Homo sapiens: one gene and its partners. The protein of the gene in region 1 purifies or fractionates together with the protein of each later gene. This does not show direct contact. Each region holds a gene or a part of one and is shown in the gene's direction. Other genes may lie near its edges.

What was found.
Region 2: the proteins of BTNL8 (region 1) and TMEM131L purify together in Homo sapiens (affinity purification with mass spectrometry; 3 studies listed by BioGRID and IntAct, with this or other methods). This does not show direct contact.
Region 3: the proteins of BTNL8 (region 1) and ITGA8 purify together in Homo sapiens (affinity purification with mass spectrometry; 3 studies listed by BioGRID and IntAct, with this or other methods). This does not show direct contact.

The regions. Positions count from the first base shown.
Region 1 is NC_000005.10:180,947,649-180,951,301, forward strand, and holds the end of BTNL8 (butyrophilin-like protein 8 isoform 2 precursor), read left to right. Parts: coding exon of another isoform or gene 1-107; intron 108-706; coding exon 707-727; intron 728-1,271; coding exon 1,272-1,298; intron 1,299-1,590; coding exon 1,591-1,617; intron 1,618-2,255; coding exon 2,256-2,896; 3' UTR 2,897-3,258; downstream 3,259-3,653.
Region 2 is NC_000004.12:153,584,722-153,588,374, forward strand, and holds part of TMEM131L (transmembrane protein 131-like isoform 1 precursor), read left to right. Parts: intron 1-113; coding exon 114-210; intron 211-736; coding exon 737-890; intron 891-1,487; coding exon 1,488-1,658; intron 1,659-3,020; coding exon 3,021-3,090; intron 3,091-3,653.
Region 3 is NC_000010.11:15,639,915-15,643,567, reverse strand, and holds part of ITGA8 (integrin alpha-8 isoform 1 preproprotein), read left to right. Parts: intron 1-3,653. UniProt on the Homo sapiens protein: Integrin alpha-8/beta-1 functions in the genesis of kidney and probably of other organs by regulating the recruitment of mesenchymal cells into epithelial structures.

The DNA.
Region 1 (3,653 bases):
GCCGGTGCCTTATTCATGGTTCCAGCAGGGACAGGATCAGAGATGCTCCCACATCCAGCTGCTTCTCTTCTTCTAGTCCTAGCCTCCAGGGGCCCAGGCCCAAAAAAGTAATCATCCTTCTCTAGGGTATTCTAACATCTCTTCCTCTGGAAATATCAACTACGACAGCCCCTTGCTACTTCATTTAGGTCAAATAATAAGGGGATGAATGATTTTCAGTACCTATAGAGAGAGCTTGGATAATTTTCCATGAACACCACCAAGACTCCTATTAAAAAGTTTTAATGTGGTGAACAAATTCATAAAGGAGGAAGCAAAAGTGACTGACAATAAGATAAAATTATATTCAGTCTCAATAAGACTTTTCACCCCCAAAACCAATTTCCTCCTCCTTGGGAGTGACACTTCCCCTTGGGGGTGAGGCCACCCCCGCCTCCCCTCCCAGCTGCCTTCTCCCATCTCCATCCCCACCTCCACAGCATCCCAGCTGTTGTCCCTCTCCTTAGCATGCACCTTCCTGATCTCTTGCTCCACCCCAGAGAGCCACACTCCGTGCAGGAGCTGGGGAGACGAGCACATATAAGTGTCCTAGGAGAGGCCCTGCCCTTCACACCTGCAGCTCGTCCCACCTGTGCAAGGAGCCAGCGTCGTGTTTGTGCCTTGTACACTCCTGTGTCCACCACTGAATATACTGTTTCTGTTTCAGGGAAAATCCAGGCGGAACTGGGTAAGTATGTGTCATGTCCTGAGCCTCCCACACATGGTTCTCCCGGGTCCCTCCCTGATCCACAGTTTGAGCCTCTGGACGACCCTGGCTGCAGGCTGGACAGGAAGCACCGGCAGGTGGAGGAGAGCAGCTGCTCGCTCTCTCCATCCACTGCTCATGAGTTACCCCTCGGACATCTGGAGGGCTTAGGATAGGCCCCGGGGCCTGGAAGTCCCCACAAATTGTCTGTGCCTGTTGCCCGTTGGTTTGCTGTGTGTGTGGTGGGGGAAGGTGTTGATCATGAGCTCTGAGGGTGTCTGGGCCACAGTGAGGAACCTGAGAAAAATTTGTGGGTGATCCTCGACCTCCCCTGGCCTGATGCTTTGAGACTTTATCCAGTTCTGTATCAACCACTAAATAGTCTGCTTTTTGTTTTGTGGGAACTCCAGGATAAACTGGGTGAGAGTGTTACCACTCGCAGGGATTCCCTCCCACGCCCTCCCTGGGCCCCCGCTCTGTGACGTCAGCCTCTTACATGTTTTTTGTTTTTGTTTTTGTTTTTCAGACTGGAGAAGAAAGCACGGACAGGCAGGTAAAAGAAAATATTCCTCTTCACACATTTATGACTCCTTTCCAAGTCTCTCGTTTATGGATTTTTATATCCTGAGGCCCGTGGGTCCCTGCAGAGCCAAGCTTGTGATGGGAACTCTGAAATTGCAGATTCTGGGGGAGGTGCATTTTGTAGAGAAGCCCCATAGCCTTCTTCGGATCTCTGGAGGGTCCACAACACTCAAAAAGGGTCCCAATCCTTGGTCTTTCCCTTCTCCCTGCGCCCTGTTTCCCACGTGAGCACTGAACTGCCTGCTCTGTCTGCTTGCTTTCAGAATTGAGAGACGCCCGGAAACACGCAGGTACCAACGCCTGAGAGGGTGACAGTGGGACAGAATCTCAGGTGGACATGAGAGGGGGAACTGAACAGGGACAGATACGGGAACACAGAGTGATGCTGAGACCCATCCTGCCTGCAGATGGAGAAACTGGATGCTTGATCGCCCCCAAGGGTTCAGTGCCCCCAGACACACTTCTTTCCCTTGGTCTAGAAGGGGAGAAGACAGGGGCTGGGTAAACGGGAGACGGGGGGGTCTTTGGCACAGTTTCAGGGAATTGAGGGCACTAGTGACTGGTCAGGGGTCTGAGCTGAGGGGAAGGAAGTAAAGTCAGGCAGAAAATTCTGAGTGGGAGGAAGTTAGATAGTGGGGTCCCTCCAGCTCTTATGAATCAAATAGTTTTATGTATGAAGGGACAGTGGCAGGGTTGGGTGATATGCCGAGATTGGGACGTCATATTGAGACATATCTAGACATTGATGAGTCCTCCAGGCTGCACTGGTGATGAGAGGACCTGAAAGGCAGTGTCTGCGGGAGGCTCAGGTCCGGGGCCTCACCTATGCCACCCAGAGCCAGTCTGCAGTGGGAGGGTCGACCTCTTGCTCCAGCCCAGATTTCGTCTTCAGTAACTCATGCTTCCTCTCTCCCCCACCGCACCCCAGTGGAGGTGACTCTGGATCCAGAGACGGCTCACCCGAAGCTCTGCGTTTCTGATCTGAAAACTGTAACCCATAGAAAAGCTCCCCAGGAGGTGCCTCACTCTGAGAAGAGATTTACAAGGAAGAGTGTGGTGGCTTCTCAGAGTTTCCAAGCAGGGAAACATTACTGGGAGGTGGACGGAGGACACAATAAAAGGTGGCGCGTGGGAGTGTGCCGGGATGATGTGGACAGGAGGAAGGAGTACGTGACTTTGTCTCCCGATCATGGGTACTGGGTCCTCAGACTGAATGGAGAACATTTGTATTTCACATTAAATCCCCGTTTTATCAGCGTCTTCCCCAGGACCCCACCTACAAAAATAGGGGTCTTCCTGGACTATGAGTGTGGGACCATCTCCTTCTTCAACATAAATGACCAGTCCCTTATTTATACCCTGACATGTCGGTTTGAAGGCTTATTGAGGCCCTACATTGAGTATCCGTCCTATAATGAGCAAAATGGAACTCCCATAGTCATCTGCCCAGTCACCCAGGAATCAGAGAAAGAGGCCTCTTGGCAAAGGGCCTCTGCAATCCCAGAGACAAGCAACAGTGAGTCCTCCTCACAGGCAACCACGCCCTTCCTCCCCAGGGGTGAAATGTAGGATGAATCACATCCCACATTCTTCTTTAGGGATATTAAGGTCTCTCTCCCAGATCCAAAGTCCCGCAGCAGCCGGCCAAGGTGGCTTCCAGATGAAGGGGGACTGGCCTGTCCACATGGGAGTCAGGTGTCATGGCTGCCCTGAGCTGGGAGGGAAGAAGGCTGACATTACATTTAGTTTGCTCTCACTCCATCTGGCTAAGTGATCTTGAAATACCACCTCTCAGGTGAAGAACCGTCAGGAATTCCCATCTCACAGGCTGTGGTGTAGATTAAGTAGACAAGGAATGTGAATAATGCTTAGATCTTATTGATGACAGAGTGTATCCTAATGGTTTGTTCATTATATTACACTTTCAGTAAGGTCTTTGCTTGTTTATTTCACATGAATTTATTGTTCCCTACTTCAAATCACCCATGAAACAGGCACCTGCTCTGTGCCAGAGCCAGAGGGAAGGTGGCACTTCCATTGCATTCTATAGAGCCCGCATTACTTTCATACCAAAACCAGACAAGGACATTACAAGAAAAGAAAGGAAAACTACACGTCCATATCCCCCATGAACTTAGACACAAATATTCTAATTAAAATTTTAGCAAACTGAATCCAGCAATACATTCAAAGAATAATACATCACTACTAAATATGTTTTTTCTCATATGTGGCTTAATATTCAAATATCAACCAGTTTAATTAACCACATTAACAAACTGAAAAAGAAAACTATACGATCATTTCAATAGATGCAGGAAAAAAT
Region 2 (3,653 bases), on another chromosome or scaffold:
TAATGGAGACAGAAAAGTGAATAAAAATTTATAAATAAGACATATATCTTTTGTTCAGGCTTAATGAAAGAAAAGGTACTTAAGCTTCACATTTATTTCTTTATACCACAAAGCAGCTACATCATGTGACAGTGGAATTATAGAAGATGTGAAGAAAACAACACACACTCCAACACTAAAAGCATGCCTCTTCTCTTCTGTGGCTCAGGGGTAGGTTACTTCCACTTTCCCTGAAATCTTGTATGGTTGTTGTTGTTGTTTTCCCCTCTAGAAATGGTTTAAAAATATAGTGATATGATTTGTGTGATTCTCTCTCTCACTGGCCTTGCCTCCCCTTGCCTTAGCATTGCTAACAGGCAGTGAAAGGGATATTAGCTGAGTGGGGAAAAGGAAGTGAAATAATTCAGTTTATGAAATAGGTTCAGCATCAGGCATCCAGATGTGTGAAAAGAGTACATATTCACATGGTGTTTCTGAGTTGGCTTCAGGTTCTGGTTTGGTCCTGGCGGCCTCTGTGAGCTGTGCTGGCCGCAGCCTGGTTGCTTCCCCTCGGGCTTCCAGTTGCTCCCTATGTGAGCCAGAAGGTTGAAGGAGGCGATTGCCGAGGTTGTCTCTGGCGCTAGCTTTCATTTAGTAACGTTTTATGATGCTCCTGTTTTTGCAATTAGAGGCTCATAAGAGGGCTGACTGTTGTCCCACACTCAGGCCTGATAGCATGCATGTCGTCTGTTCACAGGTATTTTAGAATGGACTCTTCTGCAACCCAGTTTCACATAGAGACTCATGAGAACACATCAGGACTTTGGTCAATATGGTACCGCAACCATTTTGACCGTAGTGTTGTATTAAATGATGTGTTTCTTTCCAAGGAGACCAAGCACATGTTAAAGGTACATATAGTATTTTTTCCCCAAGTTTTAGCTTATTTTAAGCTTTGTTTAAGGTCAGATGCTGTGAAATTATTTCTATAAAATAATAAAAAATATTCCAAATGCTATGAAGTTATTATTTATATAAAATTTTATGATTTTTAAAACATGTATTTTTCTTTTAACATTTTCAGAATTACTTTTAGGAGACTTCTCTTTCTCTCTTTTTAAAAAACTGTTTTTAAAAGAGCTCAAAGGGACCAGGATATAGCCTTTCAAAATTATTTGCTCTTACCATTATTCAAAAATATTATGTATATGTATTGTTCTAAAAAGATTAGTAAAAATGAGCCTGGTTCATGATAAAATAGTAGGTTTTTTGCAAAATATCACTTACTGAAATTTCAAGATTACTTTTGTGAAATTTAAAACAGTGTCATCTTAAGCATTATTTGTAACCTATCATTTCTATAAAAATATTCCAACTTTTGATCTGGAAATAACTGAGTAAAATCATACTTTCTGAAGTATAGAAGAATGTTAGCATCATACTTTATAATGATTTTAATCATAATTAGTGTTAGGAAAAGTAATTTCTCTTGCTTCTTTTCTTTTTAGATTCTGAATTTCACTGGCCCTTTATTTCTACCTCCAGGCTGTTGGAATATATTTTCTTTGAAACTTGCTGTTAAAGACATTGCCATAAATCTATTCACCAATGTATTTTTGACTACAAACATAGGTGCCATTTTTGCAATACCTCTACAGATTTATTCAGCACCAACCAAGGTATTTTCTACAATACTATATGTGTGTTACAGTTTTCTTAATTACTGTTGCTTTTTATTAACCTTTAGTGCTTGAGTTTTATTAACTGGGTTAAGCTCACGTTCTTTAAGGCTAAGAAACTGAAGGATATTACCAGGCCAGTCTTGGATGATAAATTGTTCAGACATAAAAATCTTTATTTGGAAAGAGTTTTCTTTTTTATAAAGTAATTTGAAGTTCTTGAATGAAATAAGGCATGACCAATAGATTAATAGATGTCATTTTCATTTATTTCCAAAATTTGTAGAGCAACCAGTATGTGTTTGCTATAGAAAACACAGGTTGGCTTTTAGTACATACTTGCAATGACTTAATAAATTAAATTGTTAAATGCTTTATTTGGATCTCTTCTAAGTGACTCTTAGTTGCTCGTAATCCTTGAATTTGCTTAGTGGGCCAAGTATAAAGCCTGAAAAGATTCACAGTTAAGAAAATGCTTTCTAAAATCTGGGTAAATTATATTTAATTTAGACCGTCTTAAATATGTCTCTTTCTTTAATATTTATTTCTTTTCATTTGGTTATTATTTTTGCTTCTTTTTGCTCCAAGCTATTTTGTATAACTCTGGGTTCTGGTTTTTCTATGCAACATTCATGCAACCATCTTTATTTTTTTTCTCACTTATAGTGTGGATCTTTCATAGTTAGAAATGCCTCATGCTTAACTAGCTGTAAGCGTACAGATAGGAATTCTAAAATTAAACAATGTAAGGTTAATTCCATTTATCCATATTTTGAGCAGGGGTGGTTTCTTAGAAATTTTTTTTCTATTCAAGAGATGCATGTCAGCAGAGTGTGGGAGGAGCAGGCAGGTTTCAGGTATACCTGTAGGAAATGGGAAATTAAATGTCCTGAATAGCTAGGAGTTGTTATAGATTGGCATACTGTTTCCCAGAGGATTAGAGTTCAATTAAAAAAAAACAAAACTTCTGACCACTGAGAATGTCCTGAGACTAATCTAATCTTTTTTTTTTAATTTTTAATTTTTTTTACAGTTAGGGTCTCACTCTGTTGCCCAGGCTTCAGTGCAGCCATGTGATCATAATCTTTATTTAATTCAGATGGCAGTTTGGTGTCTTGTGGGCCCAAGGGTCATTATTGTCATTGATTATTGTGCCTGCAGAAGCCACTCAGTGACCCTCCTAGGGAGAGACAGTTCAGATTTCTCTGAAAATTCCTTAACAATTAGAAAGTAATTTTTGGCTCGTGGTTAAAGGGAAGTTCACTGAGGTGCAGACCAATGTCTGCTTTGAATTTTAGTGCATTAGAATTTTTATGTTTAGTGCTGTGTTTTAAGTTATTCATATATTACTTTTCAATCTAGGAAGGGAGTCTGGGTTTTGAAGTGATAGCACATTGTGGCATGCATTATTTCATGGGAAAATCAAAAGCAGGTAAGTATTTTGCCCTTAGGCTTTCTGTAGATCTCTAGTTTGGGGGATGGGAAATAGTGAGGAAAATTAGCATTTGTCAATGGAATAATTAGTTCTGTAAAGGCATCATATTCTATAGAGAGGATGATCATTAACAGAATGACTTAAAATTGTTAAGAACCCTCCAGAAACACCTGGGGTACTGTAAATAATGCCCCTTTATTATCTAGTAGCTTGTACTTCCGCAAGGGTTTTTTTTTTTTTTTTTCAAATAACATTGTTCGATCATCACAGCACCCATAGGAAAAATTGGAAGATTCTGATTCTTTTATGAAAGAACTGACTAGAAGTTAGTAAAAATAACTTGGAATTGTATTTGAGGACTTAAGTTATAGGAGTGTAAACATCTTGCAGATGGTGCTAGTTGTGATTTGAGACTGAAGGGCCTTAGTGTTGATGTACAAGCTGTTTCTTGTTTTGAGTTTTTTTTTTTGTTTTTTTTGTCTTTTGATTTATAGAGATATTTAGGGAGAGTTTTAAAGTATAGTTTTTTTTTTTTTTTTTAAAGATTCCCACCTCTCCTT
Region 3 (3,653 bases), on another chromosome or scaffold:
GCTCATGCCTGTAATCTCATCAGTATTTAGGAGGCCGAGGTGGGTGGATCAGTTGAGGTCAGGAGTTCGAGACCAGCCTGGCCAACATGGTAAAACCCCGTCTCTACTAATAATACAAAAATTAGCTGGGCATGGTGATGCATGCCTGTAGTCCCAGTTACTCTAGAGGCTGAGGCACAAGAATCACCTGAACCCGGGAGGCGGAGGCTGCACTGAGCCAAGATCGAGCCACTGAGCTCTAACCTGGGCGACAGAGTGAGACTGTCTCAAAAAATATATGTATCTCTTCCAGCCATATTTTGTGGTTTTCCAAAGATAGACTGAACATTTTAAAGTGGAGAAAAAAAGAACTGGTTCATGATAGGAACCATAACTATTCTTGATTTACCTAATTCACATTGAAGGCACATGGAAAGCCATGAGGCACAGGTAATTTATGTATTGTGCATGCTATATGAAGACATTGATTTGTCTTAAAAGATTATTTCACTGTCCAGGTTTTTTAGCAGAGAACATCAGACTTCTTGGTTTTAGGGTTTGATTTTCACTTTTATGTTTAAGATGGTTTCAATAAATACTTAGAAGTCATTAATAGTTAAATGACAGTTTCAACTACTTATAAAAACCTTGTCTCTTTCCACTAGCCCCTCCCCTGATTGGGAATTTTCCATATGTAGAGCTATTTTTTGGTTTGGGGCAGCATCCAGTAAGCTGACTGCCTAAATATACATCATTAATTTCAGGCCTTTGGCTTTCTTCTCTCCTCTGGGATTAGACAAAAAGGATACCGCAACATATTCTTATAAATTTGCCATAAACCTTTTATGACACTAATGGAGACGTCATAGTGGGCTCAAAGTGGATTTGGTATTATATCGTATACTAATGCTTCCTACCTGTGGCAATTTCAAGAACATCTAGTTAAATTTATTTTCTTAGGTTACATTATGCTAATCAATGGTGGTTAGTTGTTATTACTGGGGAGAGGTTTGTATACATAATATATCCAAATTTAAAATAATTCAAAAATCTAGGTCCCTTATGTAATTCCTACCCCAAAAATGTCAGGGTGATTAATGAAATTCAACTCCTGGGTTGCATTTTAGGTAAACAATTAGAAAGTTACTGCTATTTATTATGGTAGTCATAGGTCTCCTTCCCACCCTTAGTACCAGGAAAATTGACAGAAAGGCTGTGCCTTTGATGAGGCAAAGGAAATAGAGGATGTATCCATCACATAGCCAGTCCTTTGACTTCCTTCCAAGGCTAAACACGTCCCAAATGAGAGCCAGGAAGGACAGAGGCATGAGTCAACTTTTCTCCCCAGGAATACTCCCTTCAGGGAGAAAAAATTTAAAAGCAGCAGGAAGGGAAAAGGAAGCTAAAGTCTGTGCAATGTTAGTAATTGATTACCTCTTTTTTTCTTTTCCTTTTTTTTTCTGAGACGGAGTCTTACTCTGCCCTCAGGCTGGAGTGCAGTGGCACGATCTCAGCCCACTGCAACTTCCACCTCCTGGGTTCAAGCGGTCCTCCTGCCTCAGCCTCCCAAGTAGCTGGGACTACAGGCGTGTGCCACCACACTCAGCTCATTTTTGTAGTTTTAGTAGAGATGGGGTTTTACCATGTTGGCCAAGATGGTCTCAATCTCTTGACCTCGTGATCTGCCCACCTCAGCCTCCCAAAGTGGTGGGATTACAGGTGTGAGCCACCACATCAGCCGATTACCTCTTAATTATGTCTTTTTCTTCCCTTAATCAGAAATATTCACTTGAGGCCATGTGCTAGTCAACAACTTTGCTGAGTCTGATGCAAATTATAATAATCAGACATGTCAGTGCTGTGCGTCTTGTCTCTGAAGTAAATGTTCTTTACTAAGGCAGGCCCGTCAATGCTGCTTGGTTGAATTTATCCCTCAAGAGTCTTGAGGCTTTCAGAGTTCATCCATGCATCTTGGTAGACCTGGGTTCTGGCGCCAATTCTGTCTCTCAAATAGGAATATGGATATCTTGTGATTCATGATTCTATAACATTTTTCCCTGATCCTCATCCTCTAGCAAAAAGAATGCCATTCAAAGAAGCCTTTTTAACTTCATAGCAAGATCCCAGGACCTACAGAGAAGAAACTGCCTTAGAGGCAGGCGACTAGATTCTCTTATTACAGTTGATTGAAAGCTGCAGGCCAAATTCAGGAATCAGACATGTAACTTTCTTCATTTTTCTAGAAATGAATTCCATTTAGCTTTCAAAGCCTCCATTTCCACCATGGTAGAAAATGATGATCTTGCAATCACTTCTATGTTTAGATTTAGTCTTATTTAGGTAAGTATTTATTCAGATTCAAGACCCCTCAGCCAGCCGTGGTAGCATGCACCTGTAGTCCCAGCTACGCAGGCAGCTGAGGCAGGAGAACTGCTTGAACCCAGGAGGCAGAGGTTGCAGTGAGCCGATATCGCGCCACTGCACTCCAGCCTGGGCAACAGGGCGAGACTCCATCTCAGAAAAAAGACTCTTTTTCTCCACCCTGTGTAGCTACCCTCCCAAGGAATGAAATAGAAAGGGGTTTACCTGTTGTCCAGCGACTGGGAAGAGATATCTGGCTCACACCCATCATCTGCTATTATTGGCTTCAGACTAAAGGGTAGCTCAGTCCCTTGTGGCCTTTGGGGCATTGCTCAAGCTTCTGTGGCTCGTTCCATTGTCTGTGTAGTGACCTCTGCTCAAAATTTCCCTGTGTCCTGGGCCCTCTTCGTCCTCTGTTAGCCTCTTTCAGTCCCCTTTTAGCAAATGCTTCTGAGCCACTGTTAGGACTCAGACACGCACAGGCTGGGTATTCAGGTTTCTGTGATTGCCCTCAGGCTTATCTACCTAGATTTTCCTTAGCTGTTGCCAGTTTCCACCCAGGCATCTCATTGCTCCAGCCCCTGATTGAGCTGCAGTCTTGTGATGTTTTGCCTGGGAAGTAACAAAAGCCCTCTTTCCCCTAAAGGTAGTTGGATGGCATGCTTTCTAAACCCTATAGTTCAGTCAGTAAATGCTACGTTCTAGGCCTCCATGACTTGTTTTGTGATTTTTCCAAACCAGTGCTTTTTGGAACTTAAAAAGATAAACAATTTCTTTCACTCTGGGGTCCTGCTTTTTCAAATCAAAAGCACTTTGCCTTTCAAATTATGAAGTAAATACACCTGAGAGCGATAACATCAGCATACCCCAAAATGACCCTGGGTGGCACACACACCCCAATGTGGCTGGGAAATCTGAGCTACGGAATCTGGGAGTGGCCAGCCCAGAGATCCATTCCTTGTCTATGAGGAAGACCTGACACCCAGGTCGGTCCCGTGGAACACGGGCCGTAGAGGGGATTGAGGCCCTTTGTTTTTGGATTAAATGAAGGTTGCCAGGTGGAGGTTGTCAGTGGGAGAGTACTAAGTGAAGATGCTTTATAAACTGCATGCCTTTTGCAAGCGGTTGCAGTTCTCTTGCCCAGCCCTCTACCCCCGGACTCTCTGCCCTGTACGTAGGTCCTCAATGAAACCTCATGTCTCACTTGCTGGCTGTTTTTCAGCCTCTTGAACATGCTGCCATCCCCAATGGAGTTGATAAGGGTTTGCACAACACAGATTACTGTGCCTTCTGAGCTTCACAATCTATTCAAC